Homo sapiens: one gene and its partners. The protein of the gene in region 1 interacts with the protein of each later gene in a pairwise test. Each region holds a gene or a part of one and is shown in the gene's direction. Other genes may lie near its edges.

The links.
Region 2: the proteins of ATF7IP (region 1) and DMTF1 interact in a two-hybrid assay, tested with the Homo sapiens proteins (one large-scale study listed by IntAct).
Region 3: the proteins of ATF7IP (region 1) and TRIP12 interact in a two-hybrid assay, tested with the Homo sapiens proteins (one large-scale study listed by IntAct).
Region 4: the proteins of ATF7IP (region 1) and SVEP1 interact in a two-hybrid assay, tested with the Homo sapiens proteins (one large-scale study listed by IntAct).
Region 5: the proteins of ATF7IP (region 1) and SUSD1 interact in a two-hybrid assay, tested with the Homo sapiens proteins (one large-scale study listed by IntAct).
Region 6: the proteins of ATF7IP (region 1) and HEYL interact in a two-hybrid assay, tested with the Homo sapiens proteins (one large-scale study listed by IntAct).
Region 7: the proteins of ATF7IP (region 1) and EPG5 interact in a two-hybrid assay, tested with the Homo sapiens proteins (one large-scale study listed by IntAct).

What each region holds. Positions count from the first base shown.
Region 1 is NC_000012.12:14,371,874-14,376,226, forward strand, and holds part of ATF7IP (activating transcription factor 7-interacting protein 1), read left to right. Parts: intron 1-4,353. UniProt on the Homo sapiens protein: Recruiter that couples transcriptional factors to general transcription apparatus and thereby modulates transcription regulation and chromatin formation. Can both act as an activator or a repressor depending on the context.
Region 2 is NC_000007.14:87,183,031-87,187,383, forward strand, and holds part of DMTF1 (cyclin-D-binding Myb-like transcription factor 1), read left to right. Parts: intron 1-1,366; coding exon 1,367-1,595; intron 1,596-2,798; coding exon 2,799-2,950; intron 2,951-4,353. UniProt on the Homo sapiens protein: Transcriptional activator which activates the CDKN2A/ARF locus in response to Ras-Raf signaling, thereby promoting p53/TP53-dependent growth arrest. Binds to the consensus sequence 5'-CCCG[GT]ATGT-3'.
Region 3 is NC_000002.12:229,768,510-229,772,862, reverse strand, and holds part of TRIP12 (E3 ubiquitin-protein ligase TRIP12), read left to right. Parts: intron 1-1,230; coding exon 1,231-1,344; intron 1,345-3,537; coding exon 3,538-3,632; intron 3,633-4,143; coding exon 4,144-4,247; intron 4,248-4,353. UniProt on the Homo sapiens protein: E3 ubiquitin-protein ligase involved in ubiquitin fusion degradation (UFD) pathway and regulation of DNA repair.
Region 4 is NC_000009.12:110,366,424-110,370,776, reverse strand, and holds part of SVEP1 (sushi, von Willebrand factor type A, EGF and pentraxin domain-containing protein 1 precursor), read left to right. Parts: intron 1-760; coding exon 761-854; intron 855-4,216; coding exon 4,217-4,238; 3' UTR 4,239-4,353.
Region 5 is NC_000009.12:112,137,090-112,141,442, reverse strand, and holds part of SUSD1 (sushi domain-containing protein 1 isoform 2 precursor), read left to right. Parts: intron 1-4,353.
Region 6 is NC_000001.11:39,632,505-39,636,857, reverse strand, and holds part of HEYL (hairy/enhancer-of-split related with YRPW motif-like protein), read left to right. Parts: intron 1-3,842; exon of another isoform or gene 3,843-3,946; intron 3,947-4,142; coding exon 4,143-4,209; intron 4,210-4,353. UniProt on the Homo sapiens protein: Downstream effector of Notch signaling which may be required for cardiovascular development. Transcriptional repressor which binds preferentially to the canonical E box sequence 5'-CACGTG-3'.
Region 7 is NC_000018.10:45,957,056-45,961,408, reverse strand, and holds part of EPG5 (ectopic P granules protein 5 homolog), read left to right. Parts: intron 1-4,353. UniProt on the Homo sapiens protein: Involved in autophagy. May play a role in a late step of autophagy, such as clearance of autophagosomal cargo.

The sequences.
Region 1 (4,353 bases):
TTGTTTTTCAAGGGAGTCACATGTATAAAGAAGCTTGAGAATAAAGTTCCTGCCTTTTGAGTTTCTAACAGTTGTGGGGCATATTATTGATTGAAAAATTAGGTGATGTTTTAACATTATTTAAACAGATTACCTTAATGTCATTAATTAGCTTCAGAGACCATAGTCCTTGTCACTTTCCTAGAGTACTTAGAAATTGCCTATCCTTTAGTGGAACTCTCTTTTAAACTTCTTGCTTGTTTGACCTTATATTTTATTAGAGAGGCCAAGAGTATTTAAACATTACTTTGCCATGTTCTTTCTCAGATTGTCCTGCCATCCACAGAGTAAATCAGGGGCTCCTCCAGGCATTTTAATTTGTTGAAAACAAAGAAAATTAAACTTTTTATAGATGATTCAGCTTGCATGGTGGAAACCATTTTGTATTGGAGACAGAGAGTGAGTGCTGGGGAGCACTTTCAGTTAAGAATAAGTAGATCAGGGCTACTAGTGCTTGTTTATATGGTGTGAATGTTTCAATTTTAAATTTCGATCATTTGGAGTTTAGAATCTTTAAGAGGATGACTCAGGTACCTCAGCCACTTTTCAAAAAAAAAAAAAAAATACCATAGGCCTAAGGGAACAGTTATACCTTCCTGAGAGTCTTTATAGTTGGACCTATATGAATATGAGAATCTGGGAAATGAAGATGACTTATTAACTTTGCCATCAGAAATATGCACTTATTCATGTCTGCAGTTTTCCATTGCTCAGAATATTATAAGAAACATTTTGTGTTCTTTTATATCCAATAACTGGTAGTAACTAGCTGTATTTGGGAGAGAGGACCCCTTTGTATGATGGTGATGTGAGGTAGTAATGCCATAATGTCTTACTATATATGATCCGTTCTCCCTTTCTTTGTTGTTTGTATAGCCCTATGCTACTTTGGGGAAGTATTATCTGGTTTGATACCTAGAAATTATGTGTCCATCACTCTTGGCATTCTAATAATTTAACATTCTAATAAGAAATTTGATTTGTATGTTAGAATAGTTGTCCTCAGAACTGTCAAAGCTGTAAAAGGAACTTTCTTTGGTTCAGTAATTCTCAGTGATAATGCCTACCATTTTGTAGAAGGATAAAGCTAAAAAGATGGAAAGGGAATCTGCTGTTTTGAGGACCAGGAGAAAGAGTTTGATGGAACAATAAAGGATGACTTGACTGCTGCAGCTTATTCCCAGCTAAGGCTTTGGAGCCTTAGATGTATATCTGCCCTGTTACTCTTATTAGATAGAATGTCATAGGAAAAAGCATGTAAGGGAAAAGAGAGACTGCTTTTGAACTCTTTTATTTCCTTTTAGGTGGTAAATGTCAGAAGTGAATTCCATTAGAGTAAAAACTAAGCTGCCACAGTATAGGAGACTCCATTCCTGTTGTTTAAAGATGACACATGTTTTTTTCTCATGTAACCATACAAAGTAAGACTGTTTAGAGTTTGTAAGTGGTTTTGCCTTAACATATGGCTTCCATCACTAGGTGAAACATGATTACTCTCTAGTTTTACTAGCTAGAGGCAAGGAAGAAAGAACAATGGGAGTGCATATTCTTTCTTTTGAGAGCATGATATGGAAGTGGCACATAGCACTTTGACTCATGGTTTATGTGTGATCATTTAGTCATTGGGACATATTTAGCTGGGAAAGGAAGTCTGGGAAATATATCTAGCTGGATAATCATATGCTTAGCTAAAACTAGAGAATTTTATAAAAGAGAAATGGATATTAATGAATAGCATTTTCTGCTATATAAGGAATTGGGAGAAGTGGTCTCAAAGTACTTCATAATTTGGTACTGAAAACTATTTCTCTTTTAAGATTTAGGTTCAGTTATAGTATAACTGTATATTTTCCATTGAAATGGTATTTTGGGGGTTTTGTGTTCATGATTTGTGGTTGGGGTCCCAGTTATTATAAATATTTATATTTGATAGAATTCTTCCCCTCTCTGCTTGCCGTTGAAAACATTATGATTAGTTTTGCAAGAATTAGAATTTCAAATTTTTAAAACTCAGTGTAGTATTTTTGAACTTTACAGGTTAACTTGCTTAATTCAAAAGGACTGTAGATGAATCGAGTGACAATTGTTTGAATAGTTTATGTTTGCATTATTTTATCCAGATTTTTTTTTCTCTGTTTATAACTGTATGTATAAAATATACATTTTCCATGATGGAAAATATGACTTTTTTTTTTTTTAATTGAGACTAGGGTCTCACTCTGTCACTCCAGCTGGAGTGCAGTGGTGTGATCATGGCTCACTGTAACCTTGACCTCCTGGGCTCAAGGGATCCTCCTGACTCAGCCTCCTAGGTAGCTTGGACTACAGGCACATGCCACCAAACCCAGCTAATTTTGTAATTTTTTTTTTTTTTTTTTTTTGTGGAGATGGGGGTCTTGCCTTGTTGCCCAGGCTGGTCTTGAACTCCTGGGCTCAAGCAATCCTCCCCTCTTGGCCTCCCAAAATGTTGGGATTACAGGTGTGAGCCACTGTGCCTGGCCGAAAATGTGACTTCCAAGGGCCTTGTAATATACACAGGTAAAAAGATTGTGGTTGTAAATTCTCTGCATATAGGCAAAACTTACCTGATTAATAAGTAAGTAGTTAAAAGTAGCTTTCTACAGAATATGACAAGTAAAACAATATATATTTTTGTAGGGTACAGAAAGTGGTGAGAGTGTTGGAAGGAGATCAAGGAGATTTTATGGGAGTTGTATTTTAAGGAATGAATTAGACAGATAATACTAGTAAAGAGAATAAATAGTATGTTCAAAATCTTAGAGCCAGAAAGGAAGGTAGTGTGTTAGGAGAACTCTTAATAGCTCTGTGATACAAATCCTTGGTTTTTGTGAATAAAAGTCATAGTTGCCATGGCACCCACATAGTATGCCTATTAAAGCATGTTGTTGCTCTCAACTGGAAATTCTCTAATTTTTCTTTGCTTTACTTCATATATTTTTTAAAGGCATTTATTCCTTTCCACTTTTATATTTATAGTTATTTGTTTTTTGTGTAGTACTTTATAAGTTTCCTGGGGTTAGGAATCATATCTTATTGATATATCTGACAATTTTTTAAGACAAATCCTTTCTAATAAGGTATGATAAGACCACTATTAAAAGTGTAAGATTGCTTTCCACCATGCCTTGCTTTCCACCATGCCTCCCTTAATATTCAATAAATACTTGCTTATTGAAAGAATAGAATTCCTTCGTTTTAGGTGGAGGTGAAAAAAAAAAGGGAATAAGATATTCTAATTATTTTCTTTTATTTAACTCATTATCCACAGATGTCAGAACTTTTTTTTTTTAATCAAACATGTAATTTACTCAGATGGCAAATACCCACATGATGAATTGTCATGGGAAGATTTGACAGGCACTTTACATATGAAAAATAATAAATAGTTGCTTTTAGGAAAAACAGTTTTCAATGTCATCCATTAAGAACCAGTTGCTTGTTAATAAAAAGTTTCTAAAATATGACTGTGAAGAACCTACGTATGTAAATTAATAAGGGTTTGAGGAAAAGATGGAATGATATAATTATTTTGTATTTTAGGTTTGTATAATCCTCTTCCCCCACCAAACTTACTTTAAATGATTTAAACATTGAAAGATAAAAATAAATAAAAAAATGAAGAAAGAAAAGAAGAACAAAAGAAAAAACAAAAAATTTTCCTAAAATCAGTTAGTTATACAGTGAAGTGGAAAGAACAGTAGTTTTGTATTGGGACCTGGGCAATTAGTGTCTCCTCTCAGTGTTCTTTATCTTTAAAATGTGGTGTTACCACCTACATGGTAGTGTTGTGAGGGTTAAATATGATTAGATATATAAAATGCTTAGCATCTGTGCCTCACACATATCTCTAGCTTTAATCAATTGGTGAATCAATTAGTCAGTCATGAATATTTATTAAGAAGCAACTATGTGCAGGGAGCCCTGCAGTACAGGGAGATTTATGAAAATAATATTCTTGATTTCTGGAGCTAGAATGTAAATGCATTTAAAAAGTAACTTGGAAAGGTCGGTTTCATATTACCACTCATTAGTAAGGTAAATAAGCATTTAAGAAAGTAGTTTACTTGTAAAGGTTTGTGATGGAGACCAGTTTTAGGACTGACTCATTAAAAAACAAACGGGTATTTAAAGGAAAAAACGCCACACGATTACTAAATTCACTAAATTTACAGTAAACATCTTCCTGGTGAAAAAGCAGCCATTTTCTCACATTGATTGTCATATCTGCAAGGTTTGGCAGCATTCATCATTGGCAAAGTTAGGGATGAAGGCATTTATTTTGGGCACTAATTC
Region 2 (4,353 bases), on another chromosome or scaffold:
CCCTTTTAGCCATAATGTTCTCTGAAGGATCCACAATCCATGCCCACTGTTGCAATTAAAAAAAAAATTTCTGAAGTTTAGCTTTAGCTTCCAGGGCATATACATTTTGACCTTAACCCCCTGCTCTAAAAATGAAATCAGAATTCTTTCCTGCTTAACTACTGCACTATCACTGTTACCTGCAGGGCAGTGAGAACATAACTTCTACCAACTTTGTCATTCTGTGACATGGCCAGCTTAATGAAAGAAGCAGGGCTGTAAGCTTTAGATTTAGGATAGGATCTCAGAGTTTCATGTAAGATGCTGTGAGTACAGAACCCCTTTTGGTAACAAAATTTGGAAGGACACAGTGGCATTTCCTGATTGCCAACCTGAGGGATTGATTGATCTGCCTGCTTCCTTCTCATGTTGTGACATACAGCTGCTGATGAGGCCATGCCATGAAACAGCACAGTCTCAAAGTAGTCCCATCCTTTCACAGCATGCTAGAATAGGAGAGTAGAACTTTGTCTTGAATCCATCCACAGTATTCATAATTGTGCTTGGCATATAATGAAAATTCAATAAACATTTGCTAGATGAATGGAATCCCAAAGCAAGCACAGTCTTTTTGAAATTTTCTAGAGGTTTTCAGCTAGTAATAACAAAATGGAAACAGAGGTAAAGAAGATGAAAAAAAATGGCTTTTTTCCCTTTCTGTTTTTCTGCTCTAGCTCCATAAGAAAAAGACAGAGAGGAACATTTGGGGTTATCTATTAGTGGGTTTATGGGTTGAGAAAACACAGGAATAAAAGTAAATACTTGTATCAGACTTTACTAATATTTCATCACAGTAGCTTGGAGTTGGGATAGTGAGGAAACAAGATGGTAGAAACCTAGTTTTTACTAAAATAGGTTGAGCCCATTGGTGTAATTTCCCTTGTCCCTCATCATTCATTCCTATAAGTAATGGCCTCTTGAACTTACTTTTGCAGAGCAGGGAATCTTAGGTGACAGTAAGAAAAAAAGCATGCCATTTCTTGTCTGTCAGCCATTGACGAAGCTCTTCCCACTTCACTGTTTATAAAGGACTTAGTGTAACTTGAGAATACATTCTTCTTTGTAGTTATGTTTTGGGTGGTTTTTCTTTTCATAATTGGTCAGTGCTTTCCATTAGGATTCTTTATTTTCTTTTCTACTGAGACCCTTACTGGGCTAGTAAAATGAAACTGTCTTAGTGGGTATATATGGTTTTCCACCAGAGGGTCATTCAGAAACAAACTCTTAGTACTATTGCTTACTTCCTATCAGTCCTTGTAAATAGAGGGCTGAATCAGATTTGTAAAAGAAGTTAGCAGTGGTAGTCTGGATGATTTCCTTTTTTCAGGGAAGTGGACAGAAGAAGAAGAAAAGAGACTTGCAGAAGTGGTTCATGAGTTGACAAGCACTGAGCCAGGTGACATAGTCACACAGGGTGTGTCTTGGGCAGCTGTGGCTGAACGAGTCGGTACCCGCTCAGAAAAGCAATGTCGTTCTAAATGGCTCAACTACCTGAATTGGAAACAGAGTGGGGGTACTGAATGGACCAAGGAAGATGAAATCAATCTCATCCTCAGGTTTGTGTCCTGAATCTTGTAATGACAAAAGCAACTTAATTTCTGTGGATGTCTTGATAGACTTTCCTCTTTTGGTTTTCCTGGATGCCTAGTGTCTGAAAAGTATCCTTTCCATAGAGCACTACTGTTTAAGATCTTAAGTATTTCATATTGAGCTCTTTTTTTGTGTTGTGTTTGTTCCTTTTTTTTTTTAGTGGGTTTAGTGCTCATGCAAAGTACCAGATTGAAGGCGTGGAGACTGAAGTCCTCTCTATATCCACAGAACAGGTATGGCACAGGCAGCGGCAGTGTAGCTTTTCCACTGTCCCACCAATGTGCCTCAGTCCTAGCCTAGGGGGAACACGTTTAGGATAAGAGGGCTGTTCAGTCTCCATGCCCTTCAATCCTTGGCTACTGTGCTAAGATTGCCAAGAAGGGGGCCCAGTCTGTAGTTACCTCCACACCTCCAAAGTAGACCAAATCAAACACATCCATTTCATACAAATTCAAAAAAGCTTTAAGATATCATAATCCCAGCTTATTTTTTTAAGTAGCTGGTTTAACCATTAAGATTTATTAACTAAAATGGGCAAAAATACTAGCAAGAAATTATTTAAGACCCTGAAGTAATAGAGACTGTCACCATGGCTACTCCCTACCGAAAATCAAATTGTCACAACAAAGCTAGAAAACGAACAGATTTTTTTAAACCTCAAATTTTGTTGTACTGTTGTGTTGTTTTTTGATTGCAGCTATTGCTTTTGTGTTATTTTGTTTTGGATTTTTTTTTCAACTAGTCATCTTTATAAATAGCTCATTTCTAAATATTTTTGCTTAACAATGGAAACGCTCAGATCCAGGAAGTAAATGACTTAGTAAATGCCACACTATGAAACATTGCATATATACAACTAAATCTGTTCTTATTCTAACCTTTAGCATACTCCTTTTCCTTCACAGTGCCTCATCTGGCTCTAACCATTTATAGTTTAGCCCATTGGTTGTACCTTTAATTAAAAGTGGTTGCTGTTGGTATTTCTTAGCTGTTAGCTCTGAAAGCAGATCTGCACTCCTGGAATCCTTTCCCGTGTAACTTAACAATAGCATCTCATTGGCATAACCTGCCATTCCCTTTATTTGCCAGTGCAATTACCTGTAGTCAGAGGAGGGGTTCTTATAGAGAAATTAATTTAATGTCTAACGATGCTTATTTTGTAACTGTAGGATAGCAGAACTTGATGTAGCTGATGAAAATGACATTAACTGGGATCTGTTAGCTGAGGGATGGAGTAGTGTCCGTTCACCACAATGGCTACGAAGTAAATGGTGGACCATCAAAAGGCAAATTGCAAACCATAAGGATGTTTCGTTCCCTGGTAATGTATTACTTACTTTTTAAGCTCCTCCCCTTTTCTTACCATATTTACTCCTTAGGAGTGAGAGGTTAGAAGTTCTTTGCCCCAGCTAGAGATATCATAGCAGATTTCTACTTACACCACTTCCCTGTTTCTCTCAGTAATTGTTTCCTTCCCCAGAGAAGAGTTAATACTGTTTGTAATTCCTAAAGCCCCTAAAATGAAAATGTACACACTTATTCTTGTTCTTCTACGTAAACTATCAGGAGGAAATAAAATCATGCCACATAACGATTTAATTTTTATGTTTTTAGAGACAGGGTCTAGCTTGGTTGTCCAGGCCGACATGCAGTGGTGTGATCATAGCTCACTGTAACCTTAAACCTGTCGGCTCAAGTGATTCTCCCACCTCAGCCTCCTGAATAGCTCGGACTACAGGCACACACCACCATGTCCAGCTATTTTTTTTCGTAGAGATGAGGTCTTGCCATGTTACCCAGGTTGGTCTCCAACTCCTGGGCTCAAGTGATCTTCCCAGCTTGGCTTCCCAATGTGCTGGGATTACCTGCATGAGCCAGCATAGCTGGCCACTCATAACCTTTCAGTCAACAACAGATGTCATACATAGTATTGGTCTCACAATATTAAAATACTGTATTTTTACTTTTTTTCTATGTTTAGATACACAAATATTTACCATTGTGTTACAGTTGCCTACAGTATTTGGTACAGTAACATGCTGTAAGGGTTTGTAGCCTAGGAGCAATAGACTGTATAGATCATCTAGCCTACGTGTGTAGTAGGCTGTACCATCTAGGTTTGTGTAAGTACACTGTGATGATCCCATGACAGAATCACCTAATGGCTCATTTCTCAGAACATATCCCCATCCTTAAGTGATTGATGACTATATTTTTATTTTGTACAAAGATGTACTTCTGAAAACCTAAGTTTAAGTCAACTTTTGTGAGTTGTATAATTTCAAATATCTTAGCTAGGTGTGTTAGAGAAATTCTGTGATAATTTTGTAGAACAAAGGCTCTGTAATTTTCTAATTTTATTAATTATATAAATCTAGAGATCTTAAGTTGGGTTTGCTTAAAGTGAAGCATACTTTTTGTTGCCTGTTTTGCATTTAGGTATTAAACTTAGTTGTACAGTCTGTTTAATTTAGGTTACTAAATTTATTCCCCTTATTATAGCACTCTTAACTTCCATTATTCCAAAGGAAAATTTAATGCTGAGGAACTTTGCCTTGATGAAAATGTGGTTTTTTAAAATACCCAGGTATAGGCCAGGTGTGGTGGCTTATGCCTATAATCCCAGTACTGTGGGAGGCCAAGGCAGGAGGATCACTTGACGCTAGGAGTTTGAGACCAGCCTGGGCAACATAGCAAGACCCCATTACTACAGAAAAAATAAAA
Region 3 (4,353 bases), on another chromosome or scaffold:
TGCTTTGTGACTTTAGATGGAGCCTCTGAAGAACTTCATCACCATTTTCTTCATCAGCTTTAAAAGAGAGAGAGAGAGAGAATATAGGTTAAATAATAACTGGCTAGGCGTGGTGGCTCACACTTGTAATCCCAACACTTTTGGAGGCCAAGGCGGGCGGATCACGAGGTCAGGAGTTCAAGACCAGCCTGACAAACATCGTGAAACCCCGTCTCTACTAAAAATACAAAAATTAGCCAGGCGTGGTGGTGCACGCCTGTAGTCCCAGCTACTCGGGAGGCTGAGGCAAGAGAATTGCTTGAACCCAGGAGGCGGAGGTTGCAGTGAGTCAGGATCATGCCACTGCACTCCAGCCTAGGCGACAGAGCGAGACTCTGTCTCAAAAATAATAATAATAACCAGAGTCCCCTGTTACTTAACAGTTCTGTGATTCATAAGTAATTCCTTTTAGTATTCAGTAGGACTGTCTTCTTATCCTGTTTCTTCTACTGACTTTGTGAAAGCTATTCTTCCATCTTACTAGCAAATAATGAGTTAACATTTAGATTAAGGTTATCTCAAAATAATTTATACTAATGCTTATAATTTTCTATCAAGAAAATCCTAATGTTTTCATTTTTATCTGAAAATGTTGTTTCTCTACCCATTGGGCTACCCAAAGTCAGTGATGACTAGATAATGTTGGACCAATAAGAGTTGCTTTTTCTTACCCTTCAATTGCATGTGACTTCATTTCCAGGCTTTGCCTACTTTTAGTAGGAAGCACACACTGCAGACAGGTTGGGTTCTAAGAACTTCACAGGATTTAGAACTAAACATTTTACGTTAAAAATTAAAAACCCTTAATAGTGGCTAATTGTGATTCTTCAAACATTACCTTTAATTCTCAATAACATTTTATCCTCTTGGGAAATTCTCATTTGATTCCCATCCAGTGAGGTAATATAACTGTATGGCATGGGTTTCACATAAATAGATTTTTAAAACACACTAAATGTAAATGCACATGGCATTTTTTTTTTACATTTTGTTATTGGTAGGGGCCCCACATTAGATGTTGACCTGATGTTTTACTCATGTAGTTTTCTAGCAGATTATTTTAAAGTCTTAATAACTTGTTTGTTCTTTATAAAGTGATCCAGAAGGGTGTTTCACTGTACTTTGCCACATATTAAATAGTAAAGAGATTTGAAATCTTGTCACAGTTTTTTGAAAACTTTCTTTTTGCAGCTGGTTATATTCTGGGCACTAAATGAAGGCGTTTCTAGGCAATTTGATTCGTTCAGAGATGGATTTGAATCAGTCTTCCCACTCAGTCATCTTCAGTACTTCTACCCGGAGGAAGTGAGTAGCTTATATCTAAAAGAAATGGTCATACCTATAATTTTAGTGGAGTGTTTCTGTGCTGCCTAGTCAAAGACCGTATTGTTGCACAAAAACAAAAAAATGGGTGTTAGATAGCAGGGGATGGATGTTTGGGAAAGACAAGGAAATTGCCTGAGCAAGGAAGAATGTTAAATAGGTGTCCCCTCTTAGATTGGGGAGCGGGTTCCACGCGTGACAGTAAGCATAGCATCTTTGTCAGCCAAGACCCTCAATGCCATTCAGTGGAGAATGGGGACTTGTGCTGTGTGTGGCATGTTCTACATGTTTCTGTACTGCTGTGGAAGCAAAGAGAGACATGGAGGGGGCTTGACTTTATTCCTTAACTAAACTTCGTTTCGATGAGACATTGTTTCACAATCAAAGTTAGTCCTTGAAGTTTTAAGAAAGTATTATAAATTATCTAATTGCCAAATACAGAGAATACTTCTGAGAATGGAAGAAATGGATTTATGTGCTTGGTTTTCTCTAGCCGCCTGTATTAGTCTGTTTTCATGCTGCTGATAAAGACATAACCGAGACTGGGCAATTTACAAAAGAAAGAGGTTTATTAGACTTAGAGTTCCACGTGGCTGGGGAGGCCTCACAATCATGGTGGAAGGTGAAAGGCACATCTCACATGGCAGCAGACAAGACGAGAGCTTGTGCGGGGAAACTCCCCTTTTTGAAACCATCAGATCTCGTGAGACATATTCACTATTATGAGAATAGCCTGGGAAAGACCTGCCCCCATGATTCAGTTACCTCCCACCAGGTCATTCCCACAGCAGGTGGGAATTGTGGGAGTTACAGTTCAAGATGAGATTTGGGGTAGGGGCACAGCCAAACCATATTACCGTCTTTAATTTCAAGTGCCAAATCTCAAAAGAACTACTCACTGGTAGTGAGATACAGAAAGCCTCTAGAATGTGTCCAGTTTCCCTCAGTTTTGAAACCTTTTTATTTATTGTTTGAATACTAGTTTTAGAGTGTATGTTCACTACTGATTAAATCTATAAATTTTTGATTAACTTAACGTCTTAATCTCAGTTATATTTGTGTCTACTTAAGCATGTAGTGTGCCTGATACTTGTAGGCACTGCTTGTCACCTGGAATAGAATCATGGTCCTCACCACTTGCTGTATAACCTTATCCAAGTTACTGTATCTGATAGGACTGTTTCATCTGTAAAATTGGAATAACCCCTATCACAGAGTAATGGAAATTAAATAGGCTGGGCACAGTGACTTAGCCTATAATCCCAGCACTTTGGGAGATGGAGGTGGGAAGATCACTTGAGCTCGGAAATTTAAGATTAGGCTGGGCAACATAGTGAGACCTTGTCTAAAATAAAAAAAATAATTAGCTGGGCGTGGTGGTATGCACCTGTAGTCTCAGCTACTTGGAAGGCTGAGGTTGGAGGATCACTTGAGCCCAGGAGATCATGACGGGAGTGAGCTGTGATTAGGCCACTACACTCCAGCCTGGGCAACAGAGCAAAGCTTTGTCTTTAAATATATAGGACCAGACAGTGAGCATTATATAATAGATATTAAATTTCATTGGCCTCAAATTGGATTTTCTCAAAGTATAAGGACATGAAAGCATTTATTGCTTTCTAATATTCATTCTATAATATCTGGGTTGGTCCCCATACAACCAACCATGTAGCGTAGACATGCCTCTCTACAAAGTGTAAAGACCTACCCATTTGCTGTGTCCTAGTTCAGCTTGCTTCTCCCACTTCTTTCTCCAGCTCAATGTTCTCTCCCTTGGCATCTGTTACTGTATACCTTTGTGTTTCTGAAAGCCAGGATTTATAAAATCTCCCTGACTAGAAGCAGATTATCCATTTAAAGCACCTAAAGTAATGAGAAGAAAGGAAAACTGAAATCAAGGGTCATCAGGTGTTTTTGGTTTGAGAGGAAGGGTTTCTCAGGAACCAAGTCCCTGCAGATGGGCAGGGTACTTAATAGCGTACAGCTAAAAAGGAAATGGAATCTCTAAATTTTATTTTATTTTATTATTATTTTTTTTTTTTTGGAAAGAGGTCCCAAGCAGAAGGTTTTAGTACTGAGACTGATACTCTTTTATGGTACACGTAGACCTTTATTTTCACTCACGTAAACAAATGTTTCCTTAGTAATTCTTTTTACCCTTATTTAAACTCACAGCTGGATCAGCTCCTTTGTGGCAGTAAAGCAGACACTTGGGATGCAAAGACACTGATGGAATGCTGTAGGCCTGATCATGGTTATACTCATGACAGGTAAGTACTGGGGTCTGCCAGTTTTTCTGTTGATTCTGAAGAATGTGGAGAGGGGTGTGTGTGTACACACACATGCGCACATGTGTAAACAACAAAAGTTGGAGTGGTTCATTTTAAAATGTGTCTACCTGTTAATGGATGCTTACTTCTGTTTTGGCCTTATTTCTCTGAAGATGGGAAATTAAGACCCAAGGGTTTCTTTCTCAAGTATTTCTGTGAAAATACTAGGGGTTGGGGAAGACAGATTTAATCTTGTTCCCCATTATTACATATAGTAAAGCAGAAATATCTGTACAGTACCAGATCAAGTCTTACTTATTACAACTGTAATCATTCCATTTGAATTCTAGTCTAGTCATAACAGAAACGAATTTAAGTACATTGTAATGGAAAATGTATGTGTAATTTAAAAGTGCTAATCTAATTTTTATGTCATGTGATGCGATGCAGTGTGATTAAAACTCTATTTTAACCTGATGAAATAATTTTGGTATATTTATTTCTGTTATAGTCGGGCTGTGAAGTTTTTGTTTGAGATTCTCAGTAGTTTTGATAATGAGCAGCAGAGGTTATTTCTCCAGTTTGTGACTGGTAGCCCAAGATTGCCTGTTGGAGGTGGGTACGATGTTGATGTTTAGCATTTATTCTACCTATGGGTGGGTTTGTGAGTGTGAAACTTCAGTACCATCAGCAGGAGATTCTTTATCTCACTTGCAGTGCC
Region 4 (4,353 bases), on another chromosome or scaffold:
CACTTGCTAAAAATTCATCTAGACCAAATACCAGCATCTTCAGGTTTTTTAACAAATACATTTATGCAGATGAAGAGTTTGGTTATGAGATTATGGATTTGTGAGAAAAACACCTAGATAGTAAATCTTTCAGTGTCCTCTCAGGGTTTTATCTGTGACTAACCAGTTTCTGTAATTCTAGTTAAAGCTGACAAAAGCCGTGAAATATGTCTCCTCTCCAAACACAAAGGGATGTTGAATCATCTGTTATTTTAGACAATCCATGTGCCTAATTTATTATCATAAAAGTTGACGTCTGACTTAATCACCCAATCAATCATAGAGTTCAATGCTAACTCCCTCGAGGAATTTACAATCTTGAGCTTCAAGTCAGTGGAAAGAAATGTACAATCTAATTGAACACAAAAAAATTTATAGTTCAAAACATTCAAAGTGTCAGATTGGTTGCATAAATTAAAAGAGATTAGAGAAGAGGAAAATCAGTGGACTTGGAGTGATCAGCAAAGGCTTCAATAAGTAGGTAGAACTTAATCTGGGACTTAAATGTGAAAATTGACCAGCTTGGAAGGAAAAAGGGAGGTGGTACCACATAAGGATGTGAAGTCAAGCAGAACAGCAGAAATGGATAATGCTAACGGTATATGAAGACCAGCAGTGGCTGCTGCAGGAAGTAGAGTCAAATCTTATCCTACGTGCCTTTATGGATATCATCAGAATTGCTAAGTATTAATTAAATAAATGCATGGGTTTTTTATTCCAGCTGTTTGCCAGTCTCCCTGCTTAAATGGTGGAAAATGTGTAAGACCAAACCGATGTCACTGTCTTTCTTCTTGGACGGGACATAACTGTTCCAGGTAAGATAACCAAAAACTAATGTTCGCCTATAACATGAAGACTCTAAAATTCAAGTAAATTGTCCTAAGAGCCAGAAGTTATCTCTGTCTAGTTTGACTGTAAGTATTTTGTATGTGAAAACATCCATTTTGAGACAGGCTCTCTAAATTTGAATTAAAGCCAAAGCTAAGAAATATTAGTTCAGGATTGACAAAACAAGAATATCTCAAAAATAAGCAGTCTTGTGCTCACTTCAGCAGCACATATACTAAAACTGGAACTTCACAGAGAGGATTAGTATGACCCATGCTAGAGGATGACACACAAATTTGTGAAGCATTCCACAGTTTTTGCAATTAAAAAAAATCGGTTATATAAATAAATAAATAAACTTCTTGAACAGAAGATTGCATCCTACAGATGCAAGGATGTAAAATAAATAAACTCAATGTAATTTTATTGAAAATGACCCAATAGATGTTTAAGTTCTTCATTACAATAAAAATAGTATTGAATTGATAAGAAACGTTTATTTTAAAGTAATATATTTTGTATTTTAGTGTTTCTATGCGTAGCATTTCATTGACTACAAAAAGATTATGTAAAAATATGTTTTTTCATCGGTTTCTTATTTCTGACCAGATAAATATCACAGTTTAAAAATACTATCACAAGTCAAAGGGAAAATACTTAAAAGATCATTTATAACTTTTTAAACATCAGGAAAATATCAGCCATATTGTGACATACCACAGATAAAATATTTTCAATATTCAAACATTGTCCTCACCAATGTTGCAATGTTGAAATATTATCAGCTATATTTTAAGACTTTCAATATATATCACTGCACTTAGATTTGTATTATGTACACTTACCCCTACCATATAGGACTCATTAAAAACAAATGGGTATTTCCATATTCATTTTTTAAAGTGGGAAAAATTCAGTTAACTGAAAACTTTTATTTTTCATTTCCTGATTTGTTATTTTGATTGGAATGTCAAAGTCAACTTGCAAATATAAAAAAGCAATTAAAGTAAAACCTAACAACAACAAAAAAATCTGTCTAATGCCAGTGAATTTCCTCACATCATCTCAAGTATATGCCATCTCTGCAAAAGGAGAAAAAATAAACTGAACCCTAAACAGCAAATTTGAAATGGACAAATATATTTAGAAGCTGCCAAGATTATACCTTTACCTGAGAGCAGAGCTGAATTTAAGAAAATGAGAGCCAAAAGAGAGGAAATAAAAGAGAAAAAACAGTGACTCAAAAAAGAAGTATTTAGTACTTTTTTATAATATTAGATTTTATATTTCAACCTCTTCATTTTTCAGATAAAGAAAAGCCCAGAGAGAGTTTGCATGATTTAAAAACTGTCGATAGGAGTTCTTTCTTGATTGAGGAAAGGATAATTATTAGCATGTATTAAAATACTGTACATTAATCAGGAAAACAAGATCTAGATTTTTTACGCAAAAGTTTGATATAGGCATCCAAGAAAAATAATGGCAAATTAAGCTGAGAGGTGTAGCTCACCTTCAAGGGAAGGCTAACTAGCAACCCAGAGGACCAGACAGGTTCCTCCTCCTGTATATACTGTAATTCTTGCTAAAACTCTAACTAGTTTAAGCAAAGAAGAGAATTTATTATCACAATAGAGGGACCTTGTATGGAACCCAAGGACAGAGGAGTGGTTGAGCATCAGGAGGACCAGACTGGGGACTTGAAAGCCACGTGTACCTCTCCACCTCCCATGTCACCACCTCTTCCAGGGTCTCCTCCATCCTGTCTAGCTACAGAGTGGTTTTCTTCTGTTTAGTTCATGTGGAAGGGAAGGACAGAATTTCTCTTTTTTTTTTAAGACAGAGTCTCACTCAGATGCCCAGGCTGGCATGCAGTGTGCAATCTCGGCTTACTGCAACCTCCACCTCATGGGTTCAAGCGATTCTGTCTCAGCCTCCTGAGTAGCTGGGACTACAGGCATATGCCACCACACCCACCTAATTTTTGTATTTTTAGTAGAGATGAGGGTTCACTATGTTGGCCAGGCTAGTCTCGAACTCCTGACCTCAAGTGATCTGCCCGCCTTGGCCTCCCAAAATGCTGGGATTACAGGCATGAGCCACCGTGCCTGGCCAGGACAAAATTTCTTACAGAATTTTTTACATGTCACCATACAGTATCCGGAGACATAGTACACTGTCCCAGTTTAAAAATCCAGGACTCTGATTGGTCCAGATTGATTCAATGGCCAAGCATGAATCAATGTCCTAGGTTGGATTATGTTGTACCAACATAAAGGGTAATTTTGGCAAAAAACTGGGTAAAAGGGAGGAGAGTCTGGCAATTCCCAGAAGAAAAGAAAGTGGGAGGGGGAAGAGTGCTTGTCTGAGAAATAAACAATAAATGTTACCGTATAAGTTTTTCCTTCTCTCCTACGAGACTGAATGCCTTAAAGTTTGTATGCTGGGCTGAGTGTGATGGCTCACACCTGTAATCCCAGCAATTTGGGAAGCCAAGGCAGCAAGCGGATCACTTGGGCCCAGGAGTTCAACACCAGCCTGGGCAACATAGGAAGATCCCATCTCTACAAAAAATACCCAGAAAAATTAGCCAGGCATGGTGGCACACACCTGTAGTCTCAGCTACTGAGGAGGCTGAGGTGGGAGGATTGCTTGAACCCAGGAGGCAGAGGTTGCAGCGAGCCAAGATTGTGCCACTGCACTCTAGCCTCGGCAACAGAGTAAGATCTTGTTTTAAAATATATATATATGCCTAGTGCCTTGTACAGGCACAAAAGTCGCTGCTCAATAAAGGTTTGTTAACAGATGGAGCAATTTCCTGGCATGAATGTCAGTTGGTAGAGAAATGCCTTGTGGCATCCATTAAATCCCTCAATGTTTACCTTCTCTACTGATAAATAAGACTGACCTGGCCTTTTCTCCAGATAATTCAGTTGTTCAGAAGGAAATTGTGTTTCCTCTGACCTCTGTGCACATCTTCAGAAAACTGATCCTAAGCAAATATCATAATGAAAAACCATAGATTGTTAATGGACTAAGAGACCTTTAGGTTCATTAGCTCCAAACCCCTCATTTTACAGAAGAGAGAATTGTAAGATAGATAGAAAACTAGTGGCAGAATCAAGAGTAAAACTCAGGTCTGATGCTTCTCAGATCTTTCCATAAGTTAGCACTTGTTTCCCATGCCTCTTAGTTATCTCAAAGAATGACCCCCATCCGTATAAACATCACAGATAATGCCCAGGTATCTGGGACTTTCAATCCTGTTTTCATCAACTCCTAAAGAGATGTTAGCTCTTCAGTTCAATTTTTTCTTTTGAATCTATTTGGTTGCTTTTTTTTTTTTTTCCAGGAAAAGGAGGACTGGGTTTTAACCACTGCACGACCATCTGGCTCTCCCAAAAGCAGGATCATCTCTCCTCGGTAGTGCCTGGGCATCCTGGAACTTATGCAAAGAAAGTCCAACATGGTGCTGGGTCTTGTTTAGTA
Region 5 (4,353 bases), on another chromosome or scaffold:
GGCCTCCCACAGTGCTGGGATTACAGGTGTGAGCCACTGCGCCTGGCTGATATTTGGCATATCTAATCATGTCTACTCATATGGCACTGTGTGCCAAGTATTATTTTAAGCACTTTATATATGATGATGGACCACATTGTAGTGGTCCCATAAGATCATAATGAGACTGAAAAATTCCTATTGCCTAGTGACATCGTAGCCATCATAATGTTGTAGTGCATCACACTCACGTGTTTGTGGCATTGCTGGTGTAAACAAACTTACTGCTCTGCCAGCAAGTACATTACTGTATGTATATTACTGTATGTACATTACTATACATAAAAGTGTACAGTAATGTCCTAGGCCTTCACATTCACTCACTATTCACTCACTGACTCACCCAGACCAACTTCCAGTCCTGCAAGCTCCATTCATGGTAAGTGCCCTATTACAGGTGTATCATTTTTTTATCTTTTATTCTGTATTTTTACTGTATCATTTCTATATTTAGATATATAAGTACTTCTTATTGTGTTATAGTTGCCTACAGTAATCAGTATAGTAACATGCTGTGTGAATTTGTAGCCTAGGAGCAATAGGTATACCATACAGCCTAAGTGAGTAGCAGGCTCTACTATCTAGGTTTGTGTAAGTACACTCTGTGACTTCACACAATGAAGGAATTGCCTAATGATGCATTTCTCAAAATGTATGCAGATTGTTAAATGATGCATGACTGTAATTTGTTTAAGGTCACACAACTAGAGACAGAGCTGAACTTGAACCCAGGAATTCTAGTTTCAGAATTATTTTCAGCCACTTTGTTTTGCTGCTTCTGCTTTTATGGTGACACTGGCTTTTGGTTAGTTTTTTAAAAATTTTGGCTTTCTGTTTCTTTTTCCTTTTCCTTTTTCCTTTCTTTTCTTTTCTTTTTTCTTTTTTTTTTTGAGACAGAGTCTTGCTCTGCCACCCAGACTCGAGTGCACTGGTGCTCCTGGGCTCAAGCCATCCTCCCACCTCAGCCTCCTGAGTAACTGGACTACAGGCACGAACTACCATGCCTGGACAATTTTTGTATTTTTTTTTTTTTTGGAGACGGAGTCTCGCTCTGTCGCCCAGGCCGGACTGCGGACTGCAGTGGCGCAATCTCGGCTCACGGCAAGCTCCGCTTCCCGGGTTCACGCCATTCTCCTGCCTCAGCCTCCCCAGTAGCTGGGACTACAGGCGCCCGCCACCGCGCCCGGCTAATTTTTTGTATTTTTGGTAGAGACGGGGTTTCACCTTGTTAGCCAGGATGGTCTCGATCTCCTGACCTCATGATCCACCCGCCTCGGCCTCCCAAAGTGCTGGGATTACAGGCGTGAGCCACCGCGCCCGGCCCCAATTTTTGTATTTTTTATAGAGATGGGGTTTCGCCATGTTGCCCAGGCTGGTCTTGAACTCCTGGGTTCAAGTGATCTGCCTGTCTCTGCCTCCCACAGTGCTGGGATTCCAGGCATGAGCCACCACACTTGACCTGGTTTTCTGTTTCTCTGTCTACAAATATTATCATTTTATGTGCCTGTTTCCATCTGAAAAGTGAAAAAAAATTTTTTTAATTACCATTTTTCTAGTTTTTGGCTATATGTCCATAATCTAAAGGAAACATCAATCTATTCCCACTGTTTAGGAATTTCTTTTTTTTTTAATTGGAAATAAGTTATTTTTATCATGTCTTTTAGGCAGGTGATTATATATTTTTTTTCTTCTTTTAAATAACGATGTGGCCAGATGCAGTGGCTCATGTCTGTAATTCCAGCACTCTGGGAGGCCCAGGCAGGCAGATAGCTTGAGCCCAGGAGTTCAAGACCAGCCTGGGAGTGGTGGTGCATGCCTATAGTCCCAGCTACTTGGGAGGCTGAGGTGGGAGGACCACTTGAGCCTGTGAGGTTGAGGCTGCAGTGAGCCATGATCACACCCTGCCCTCCAGCCTGGGTGACAGAGCAAGATCCTATCTCATAAAGAAAAAATAATAATAATAATGTGTGGGTTATATTGTTAGATTTCCTGATAATGATCAGTACTAATTGCTGGAATGAATTAATCTGGGTTTTTGGTGTTTTATTCCTTTCATTTGGATTATATTTGCTAAATTTTACTTATAAATCTTGCATTGATATTCATAAGTGAAATTGCTCTATTTTCTTTTCCTGTGCCATCTTTGTTCAGTTCGGTATTAATGTTATTCTGAATTTTAAAAAAAAGAATGTAAAAATTTCCTTCTTTCTCTATTTCTGGAATACTACAAATAGAATTTTTAAAGATTTGGGAGATTTCACCTATAAAACCATCTGGATGTGGCACTATTGGAGAGGTAGCCCTTGGACTATTTGGACTACTTTTAAATTCTTCCTATACTTGCTGGTATATCTAATCATGTCCATTCTTTTTCTTTCCCTCTTAAGATCAATTTTGGTAAATTATGTATTTCTAGAAAATCATTTACTTCATCCAGATTTTCCAATTTATTTGTGCATGCAAAGAAGTGTAAAGCCTTCTAATTTGCTGTGGTTATATTTGTTTATAACTATTTATTGTAGTGAAATATTAGAAACAATCTCAAATGTCTAACAACAAGAGATTGGTTAAGTGAATCAATCCCTTAAAATGGAATATTATGTATCCAATAAAATTATGTTAGAAAAACAATATTTAAAAAAGAATATTTATTGCAGGCCAGGCACAGTGGCTCACACCTGTAATCTCAGCACTTTGGGAGGCCAAGGCAGGCTGATCACGAGGTCAGGAGTTCGAGACCAGCCTAGCCAGCATGGTGAAACCCTATCTCTACTAAAAATACAACAAATTACCTGGGCGTGGTGGCGTGCACCTGTAATCCCAGCTACTCAGGAGTCTGAGGCAGGAGAATTGGGAGGTGGAGGTTGCTGTGAGCTGAGATTGTGCCACTGCACTCCAACCTGGGTGACACAGCAAGACTCCGTCTCAAAAAAAAAAAAAGAATATTTATTGACATAGATAAGTACTAATAGTATGTTTCAGAGTTACAAATTCTATGAATAATAATCTTAATTTTGAAAAAGTTCCTATATACAGATAAGCTTAGAAAAATGTTTAGAATGCCATACATCAAAATGTTAATGGTGATAGTTTCCAATGGGAGGGTTTGGGATCCTGGACTTCATATATATATATATGTATATACACATATATATATATATATATACACATTTTTTTTTTGAGATGGAGTCTCACTGTGTTGCCCAGGCTGGAGTGCAGTGGCACAATCTAGCTCACTGCAACCTCTGCCTCCTGGGTTCAAGCCATTCTCCCTGCATCAGCCTCCCACGTAGCTGGGATTACAGGTGTCTGCCACCATGCCCAGCTAATTTTTTGTATTTTTAGTAGAGATGGGGTTTCGCCATGTTGGCCAGGCTGGTCTCAAACTCCTGACCTCAGGTGATCCGCCCACCTTGGCCTCCCAAAGTTCTGGGATTACAGGCATGAGCCACCGCACCCAGCCAATTTTTATATTTTATATACTTTCTGTATTGAAAGAAATTTTTTTAATGGAATGCTTAATGCATTTGCATGTCATACTTGCACAGGGATCATGCTAGTCTCTGTATCGTTCCAATTTTAGTATACATGCTGCCAAAGTGAGCATGATGGAATTTTTCACATATCAGACAAAGAAACCTGTTTTCATTTTGGAGAAAAGAGAAACCCTCACAATTTTCATTGAATTTATTGCATAATTAAGAAACCCCAGTGATGTGCATGGCTAAGTTAATCATTTTGATATTCTGACTTGCTGTGTAGGCTCTACACGCATTTTGATCATTAATTATCATCCTCAGGGGTTAAGAATTTCTAAAGATAACATTTTAGTTCTAAGATGATCTTTCAATGGATCAACTAAAATGCAGAACTTAGATTAAAATGTGCCATAGTGCCTATCAAAGAACGCTCTAAGGATTTACATAGGAAACCCCATATAAAACCATTTAGATTGCCTTGAAAATTAGCCATCATCTGGATTATTAGACTGAGAATGTAGAAAATTAATTTAGAGGAGAGTGCTTGCTGCATTTTCCCAAAGAACTGTTATTTAAAAGATCTTCGCTTCTTTTTTCCTTCTCTAATAACTGCTCCCTCTGCCCGCTGACACCTTCCTCCTCCTCCTCCTCCTCCTCCTCCCCTGTGTCACTACATGGCCTCGGTTTCTCACTGCTGTGCCTGCTCCTTTCTGAGCACATGGTTTCCAAAGTCCATTAATAGCAAAGCCTGATTCTCTAGAGGTGGCCAGCTCTTTAAGGTGTGTAAGTTTTATAGATTGGTATTATTTCCCATTTCACAGAGGAGTTTAAGGAC
Region 6 (4,353 bases), on another chromosome or scaffold:
CATATTTATGAGACAGCATGGTCTAATGAAAAGACCGGAAGTGTGAAGACTGGACTTACTGGAGTGATTCTTAACTCCAGTGTCTCTGTCACTCCACCTGTAAAATGATTATTTTTCCTAAATGTGAAATGGCCCAAAAAATACTTCACTTACAGTGCTATTGTGCAATAAATTAGACAAATGGATGTGGAAGTGCAGTATAGAACAAAAAGCACTGGCTCTGAGATCTACATGACGGGATGATGTATATATGGGGTGCACTGGCAAAAGCCCCAGATTAAAAGCCACTAGAGGCCGGGCACGGTGGCTCACGCCTGTAATCCCAGCACTTTGGGAGGCTGAGGTGGGTGGATCACGAGGTCAAGAGATCGAGACCATCCTGGCTAATATGGTGAAACCCCATCTCTACTAAAAATACAAAAAATTAGCTGGGCATGGTGACACGTGCCTGTAGTCCCAGTTACTTGGAAGGCTGAGACAGGAGAATCACTTGAACCTGGGAGGCGGAGGTTGCAGTGAGCTGAGATTGTGCCACTGCACTCCAGCCTGGGTGACAGAGTAAGACTCTGTCTCAAAAAAGAAAAGAAAAAAAAAAAAAAGCTACTAGAGTAGACCTGGCTGTAGTTCCGATTTTCCTCTAATTTGCTGTGTGGCCTGGGGAAGATCCCTTCCCCTCTGAGTTTCCTTATTTTACAAATGGACTCAGTTCTCTCTGAGATTCCTTCATTTGGGACATTGTGATTCTGCCTTTGGCTGACACAAAATGATTAGGGTCATCTGCAAGGGTTCCACGGGGGAGTTCCCAGGGGAAGTCAGCACTGAGGGTGGTCAGGACCACCTGGAAAGCTTCCCCCCATAAGAGACCGCCCCAGAATTCTGGCTAGGAGCCACTAGAGGCCTATGGAGCAGATCTTGATGGTCAACATATCTTCTCTGGGTCCATGAAAATCTGTGTCATTTTCAGATTCTCAGACAAGAGAATCCCACACCTCATCCCACTGTCAGGGCCAGATCGCGGGCTGGAAGGGAGCTCTGGCTGGGCTCTTGGGAACTTTAAAAATAAGGGGACCGGAGGGCTATTCAGACAGACAGGAAGTAGGAATTAGAAGGGAAAAAATGCTGAAGCGGAGCCAGAAGATGCGGATTCCCTGCTGGCTTTGCTCCTTAGCAGCTGGGTAGGCTGGGCAACCTGCTTTAGCTCCCTGAAGCTCAGCAACCTCATCTGTAATATGGGCTTTTGTAAGGCTCAAAGGAGGGAAAGACATATAATGTTGCCAAGAAAACTGTAATGTGAGGTTTGCCTCTGAGATATGGGAAGAGGAGAAGGGGGGAAATAATACGACAGGGACAAGCTGACCAGGAGATTGGAAAAAGGAATGGCAGCACTGCTTTGCCCTGAAATGGGTGCGTCAGCCTCCAACAGATGGTCCCAGCGGAGGGATCAGGCTGAGAGGCAGTGACGTGTGCAAGGCTAACCTAATACCCGGAAAGACGCTTTATCAAGCTGGGGGGAACAAAGGCCGTGTTTCTTAGTGTGTCTTGGCTCTTGGGGTTTGTCCCCAGTGAACCAGTGAGGCTTTGTAAACAAGCTGCCCCATAGATCTCAAGATCTGGCCTTACAAGCCCTGGACCTAGCTTGCTGGGTCCTCCCTCCCAGGAGCTATTATAGACCTCTTACCAGGTCGGCTTGTCCAGATGTTTGGGTGGGAGATATCCTTTTCCAGATGTGTCTGGACAAAGCCAGAGACATAGCAGTAGGATTTGACAAATGCTATCTGGTCTCTTCTGCAACCTTCTCTGAGCAGTTGATGAAAATGATCCAAATTCAAATGCCAAAAGGGTTGGGACCCTTGGGCTGGGACCCTTGTGTTAAGTCATATACGCCCCCATTCCACAAAGTCCTAGGCCATAGATTTTATGGTGCTTACATCTCTGTTCCCCAGTGATGCCAAAGACATGGGTGAGAGAAGAAAGCTCTACCATGAGTTCTGCTGTATTCCAAGCCCTTGCTGAGTACTGAAGCTGCAATAGTGAATGTAACAGACATGGTTCATGGCCTCATGGAGCTTATGGATTTGTTGGAGAGATAGACATCAATCAAATAACCATATAAATATAAAACAATGAACTGGCATAAATGCTGTGAAAGCAGGGTGCTAGGAGAGTATTGAGCAGGGGACACTAGTGGGAGGAGGAATGTTAGAAAAGGCTCCCCAGGGAGGTGCCATCTGAGTTGAGATCTGATGGGTTGTAGAAGTTATGGGGCAAAGGGACTGGGGCTTGGGGTGATGGGTGAACCAAAGATGGTGGACCTAGGCTAGGGGACAGTGCATGCAACTGAATGAAGGAGTTGGTGCATTCATAGGCTGGGGCATACAGAAGAAGACGGTTGAGTCTAGAGGGGTTGACAGGGGCCAGTTGGACCACCTGAAAGATGGTGGCCTTGATCTTAAAAAACATTGGGGCCAGCCATGGTGGCTCATGCCTGTAATCCCAGCACTTTGGGAGGCCAAGGCGGGCAGATCACCTGAGGTCAGGAGTTCAAGACCATCCTGGCCAACATGGTGAAACCCCGTCTCTACTAAAAATACAAAAATTAGCTGGACGTGGTGGTGGGTGCCTGTAATCCCAGCTATTTCGGAGGCTGAGGCAGGAGAATTACTTGAACCGGGTGGCGGAGGTTGTAGTGAGCCAAGATCATGCCAGTGCACTCCAGCCTGGGCAACAGAGTGAGACTACATCTAAAAAAAACCCAAAACAAACAAACAAAAGTTGGGGAGCCACTGAGGAGTTTTAAGTGAGTGATATGATCAGATTTCAATGATCACTCTGCCTGCAGTGTGGAGATAGGCTTGTAGAGAGTAAAAGAGGGTGTAAAAGGACCCAACAAGAAGCTCTTGCAGTCACCCAGATGAAAGATGATAAAGGCGTAGCATTGAGAGAAGTGGCGGAGAGGAAGAGGACAGACGTGAGATATATTTTAGACATAGCGTGGGCAGGTTTTGATGAGGTGGGGGTGAGGAGGAGGAGGAATCAAAGACAGCATCAGCTTTCCACCTTGCAGAACTGGGGTACCTTCACTGAGATGGGGAAACCCAGGGGCAGCAGGAGCAGGTGTGGGTGAAGGCCAGCTTGCAGATTCCTGTTCAGATGTGTGGCGTTGTGTCTTCTGAAACGGCAGGGGAGTCACCTTGTTTGTTGTTTGTTGGTGCAGTGTCTGCCCACTGGAGCTGAGTTGAGGAAGGGAAGGGCTGGGGTCTGGCTGAGTGCACCAGCACCCACCCAGGCCTGAATAGGGCCTTAGAAGTGTTGGCCAAATGAATGATGCCTCAGTGGACCCAGCGAATCCTCACCATTCTAAGAGAGCTTCTGAAGCAGAAAACCTGAAGAAGGGTTAGCAGTTGGGCTGGAGATTATTTTGGTCAGAGTCTGGGCAGGAAAAGCCCCCCCAGGGCTGAGCCTCTTCTCTGTAATGGGAGCTCCTGGGGTGTGAGCAAACATCCATCATTCAACCGGGGCGCAGAGGGAAGGCCCGGAGTGGGAGGAGAGGCCGAGGTTGGAGGGACGGGGCCTTCTGGGAGGCCAGGGCAGTGTCCCAGAGCATCCGAGAGGGGCCTGTGACCCAGATGCCGCCTCCCCTTCGCCCCCGGCCGCACCGCGTGGGAGGAGGCGGCAGCTGCAGGCGGGGCGGAGGGCGGGCGGCCGGCGCGCCCGGCCCGTGGGAAGCAGCGGCATCTGCTCTTTCCACGCTCGTTCCCAGCGGCTCCCTCTGAAACCCAACCCGCCCGGCCCAGCCCCGCCGCCGCCGGCCAGTGCCCTCGCCCGCCCCGCCCCCGGGGATCGGGTTGCAGGAGCCGGAGCCACCGCGCCGCGGTACGCGGTTCCCCGACGGCCGCCGCGAGGGGCGAGGAGCGAGGAGCGAGGGGCGAAGGGCGAGGCCGAGCAGGTCCGGACCAAGAGCCCAAAGTGGGCCCAGAGTGCATGAGAGGACTTGACCCGGGTTGAAATGAGCCCCCAGGAAGAAGGGGAGAGCAAGCTGCTCCTTCTAGGCCCAGCCTGTGGCTCCTCCTGGCCCGAGGTCGGCCCAGGCCGGGGAGACTGTCCCCCAGCCCTGAAAAATCAGCTTTTCTTTTCCTTTCCAGCCAGATGGCCAGGCCGCTGTCCACCCCCAGCTCTTCGCAGATGCAAGCCAGGAAGAAACACAGAGGGGTGAGTGTCCGTCTCAGCCTCTGAGTTGACCAACAAAGGGTTGCCATGAATCCCCTGCAGTCTGGCGGCGGGGAGAACCCTAGGCAGAAATTTCACCATGAAGCTAACTGCTTGGGTTCAAATCCCGGCTCTGTCACTAGCTAT
Region 7 (4,353 bases), on another chromosome or scaffold:
TTAGTGCAGAGTGAGTGAGGGGAGAACAGTAGGAGATGAAGTCAGAAAAGTAGCATAGCCTGGTCATGTTGGGCCTTGCGTGAGCTTTTACTCTGAGTGACATATGGAATCAACACAGGGTTTTGAGCAGAGGAGTGACATGATTCCACTTGTGCTTTAAAGAATCACTGTGACTGCTTTTTGGAGAATAGACTGTAAGGGGGCAAGGGTAGAAGCAGAGACCATCTGAGACTATTGCAGTCACCCAGGCAAGAGGTGATGGTGGCTTGGGCCAGGATTGTCAGAGAGAAGGTGGTGAGGAGTGTTTGAAGTCTGAGAGCCAAGAGGGTTTGCTGAGGTTTGGATGTGGGATGTGAGAGAAAACAGTCAAGGAAGACCCTGAGAAGGAGAAAGCTGTGGGTGGAACAGGTTTTAGGGGGGAAAATCAGGAGTTTGGTTTTACATATGTTAATTTTGAAATAAACATGTAGCAATGTGGAGTAGCCTTGGACATGTGAATCCAAGCCTATTCTACATCTTTACATGTTTTTTTCAAGTGATGAATAGAAACTTCCCATTTATTTCCCAAAACTTAAAAAAAACTTTAGTTTTAAATGATTACTTTCTGATTCCTCATTGCTTAAAGTGTGTATGAGTGTACACATACACACACTCTCACAGTGTACAACCCAGAAATGAAATGCCCAGAATTCCATCTCCTGGAAATAACTGTTGGTAATGGTTTGTTGTATTTTTCTTTAGGTTTTTTTCCCCATATACCCACACTCCAGAGCATATTTACTGTAATGTATAGTTAAGCATGTTTTTCTCTATTTATCAACTCTTTTTGTAAAATTTACTCATTATTGTTTCTCCATTTGAATGACTTTAAAATCGTTTTTTAATCTGTATGTAACTTATGTGGAGATCAAAAATAAAGAAATAGATTTTTCTTAATATGCCTGGCATTTTTAGTTGTAAGAAATATCTTTTGTTGGCATGATGACACCAGTCTGTACTTTCAACTACTAGGGAGGCTAGGCAGGAGGACCATTTGAGCACAGGAGTTCAGGTCTGCAGTATGCTGTGATTGTGCCTGCAAATAGCCAGTGCACTCTAGGTTGGGCAACACAGTGAGACCTTGTCTCTGATTTTTTTTTAAAAAAGGAAATACCTTTGGCTTAAATTATGTTACTTGATACACATGGAATTGATACACATAGAGTTGTCTGAATTTTACTTTGTGATCTGTAATGATTATTATATATACATTATGTCTTCCTTCTGTGTCTTTATTTATTTATTTTTATAAAGATAAAGATGGGATCTCCCTGTGTTGCCCAGGCTGGTCTCAAACTCTTGGGCTCAAGGGATCCTCCTGCCTCCCAAAGTGCTGGGATTACACGTGTGAGCCACTGCACCTGACCTTTATTTATTTTTAACTGAAGTAGGTAAAGGCAGTTGCTCTTGTTGCCCAGGCTAGAGTGCAGTGGCACAATCTCAGCTCACTGCAAACTCTGCCTCCCAGATTCAAGTGATTCTCTTGCTTCAGCTTCCCAAGTAGCTGGGATTACAGGCACCTGCCACCATGCCCGGCTAATTTTTTGTATTTAGTAAAGATGGGGCTTCACCATGTTGGTCAGGCTGGTCTTGAACTCCTCACCTCAGGTGATCCACCCACCTCAGCCTCGCAAAGTGCTGGTATTACAGGCATGAGCCACTGCACCCAGGCCTATTTATTTATTTATTTATTTATTTATTTATTTATTTAGAGACAGTCTCGCTCTGTTGCCACCCCGCCCCCACCCCAGACTGGAGTGCAGTGGTGCGATCTTGGCTCACTGCAACCTCCGCCTCCCAGGTTCAAGTGATTCTCCTGTCTCACCTTCCTGAGTAGCTGGGACTGCAGGTGCCTGCCACCACGCCTGGCTAGTTTTCTGTATTTTTAGTAGAGACGGGGTTTCACCATGTTGGCCAGGATGGTCTCAATCTCCTGACCTCGTAATCCACCTGCCTCAGCCTTCCAAAGTGCTGGGATTACAGGTGTGAGCCGCCCATGCCTGGCCCGGCCCCTATTTATGTATTTTGTGAGATGGAGTCTGACTCTGTCACCCAGGCTGGAATGCAGTGGCCAGATCTCGGCTCACTGCAACCTCCGCCTCCCGGGTTCAAGCAATTCTCCTGCCTCAGCCTCGCGAGTAGCTGGGATTACATGTGCCAGCCACCATGCCTGGCTAATTTTGTAACTGCCCAAGGGGTTCACCTTGCCCGCTGCCTAGACAGAGCCGATTCATCGAGACAGGGGAACTGCAATAGAGAAAGAGTAATTGACACAGAACAAGCTGTGTGAGAGACTGGAATTTTATTATTACTCAAATCAGTCTCCCCAGCATTCAGAGAGCAGAGTTTTTAAGGATAACTTGGTGGGTTGGGGGAAGCCAGTGAGCCAGGAATGCTGATTGGTCAGAGATGAAATCACAGGGAGTTGGAGCTGTTTTCTTGCACTGAGTCAGTTCCTGGGTTGGGGCCACAAGATCAGATGAACCAGTTTATTGATCAACTGGTGCCAGACCAGGTGTGAGCTTGATGGTACTTGCAGCACCAAAGTTTTTAATTTTGATGAAGTCCAATTGATCTTTTTATTTTGTTGCTTGTGCTTTTGGTGCCATATGTAAGAAGGCTTTGCCTACCCAAGTTTATAAAGATTTTTTTGTTTTCTTCTAACAGTTTAAAAGTTTTAGCTCTCACATTAGGTGTATGATCCTTTTTGCATTAATTTTTGTATATGATATAAGGTAAGGGTCCAATTTATTCTTTCATATGAGGATATCCAGTTGTTGTAGCACCATTTGTTCAAATTTCCCCATTGAATTGTTTTGGCATTCTTGTCAAAATCAATTTGCCATATATGTAAGGTTTTATTTCTGGATTCTCAGTTTTGTTCCTTTGATCTATTTGTCCATGTGCCAACACTATACTGTCTTTATTACTGTACTTTGTAGTAGATTTTGGAATTGCCAAGTGCGAGTTCTCCAACTTTGTTCTTTTTCAAGATTTTCTGTCTGTTGTGGGTCACTTGCATTTCTGTATGCAATTTAAGTATCAGTTTATCAACTTCTGCAAAAAAAGGTAGCTAGGATTTTGCAAGGCATTGTGTAGAGTTTGTAGGTCCATTTGAGGAATATTGTCATCTTAACAATATTGCGAAAGACATAGATTGTCTTTCCATTTAAATAAATTAAGTTGCATTTAATTTCTTTCAGTAATGTTTTGTAAGTTTCAGAGTACAAGTATTATGCTTCTTTCTCTCAATTTATCCCTAGTTTGTTCTTTTTATGCTATTATAAATGAAATTGTTTTACTAATTTCATTTTCTGATTGTCAACTCACTAAAATTTGGCCTCTGCCATACTGACCCTGCCTCAGCCTAGACTAGTAGAGTACAGGGGTCACAAAGTCAAATGCCTGCAGGAGCCAGGTGTATAACCTGGAGGAGTGAAGCAGGCTGAGTGGGACAGTGGTCACTGGGTCAGCCCGTGCCTGGTTTAGAGGGGACAGCCACTCTCGAGTTCTAGTTGATGGTTGCTGTGAGGTTGTGATGGTTTAGCATTGCCACATCTTATGATTTTCCAAGAAAAACTAGAAATCTGGATTTTTGTGTGAGAAATCCTAATTTGCAAATGTTAGCAACAAATCAGACACATACACACACATGCACACACAGTATAGGCCAAGCGAATCATATGTATTTTTAAGGATGATGTTTGAAGATGATGCCAGTGAACAAAATGAGAGTGAAATGTTTGATGTACCACTCACCTCCTTAACCGTAAGCGATGAAGAGTCCCTGATGTGTCCACTAACATTTCTCTTGCCGTAGTAACCATTTTCCCTCTTAATTTTTCTTTCTGATTTCTCAGTCTAAGAACCCTGTTTATTACAGCAAGTTTGCTAAACATCATTGCAGCATAGTTTGGGCTTGCTTTTTTGTTTTATTAACACTCATATAATGTTTTTCTATTATTTGTGATTTTAGGCAGTTTAACAAAGTAGTTTGTATGAGGTATGCATTGGGTGACTGACTTCTGGATCTGATGTCCACAGTTCACAGTGGGGAGTGAAGTAATTTGGAGGGTCATATTACTTCTTGAATCATTACCATTTGTAAATGTTTGGCAGTCAGGTTCATTTCAACAAGCTGACCTCAAATTCCATGTCAAAAATATTCATCTTTTTTTTCTTTTTAATATATAAAGGCCCTACTTTTTTGGCTATTAGTCTGCTGGACATTCAGAGCAGAATAATCCAAAATAACCAAGAGCTTGTATAACTCATGTTTGCCTGCCTTAAAATTTCTTCAAGAAAGTAAGTATT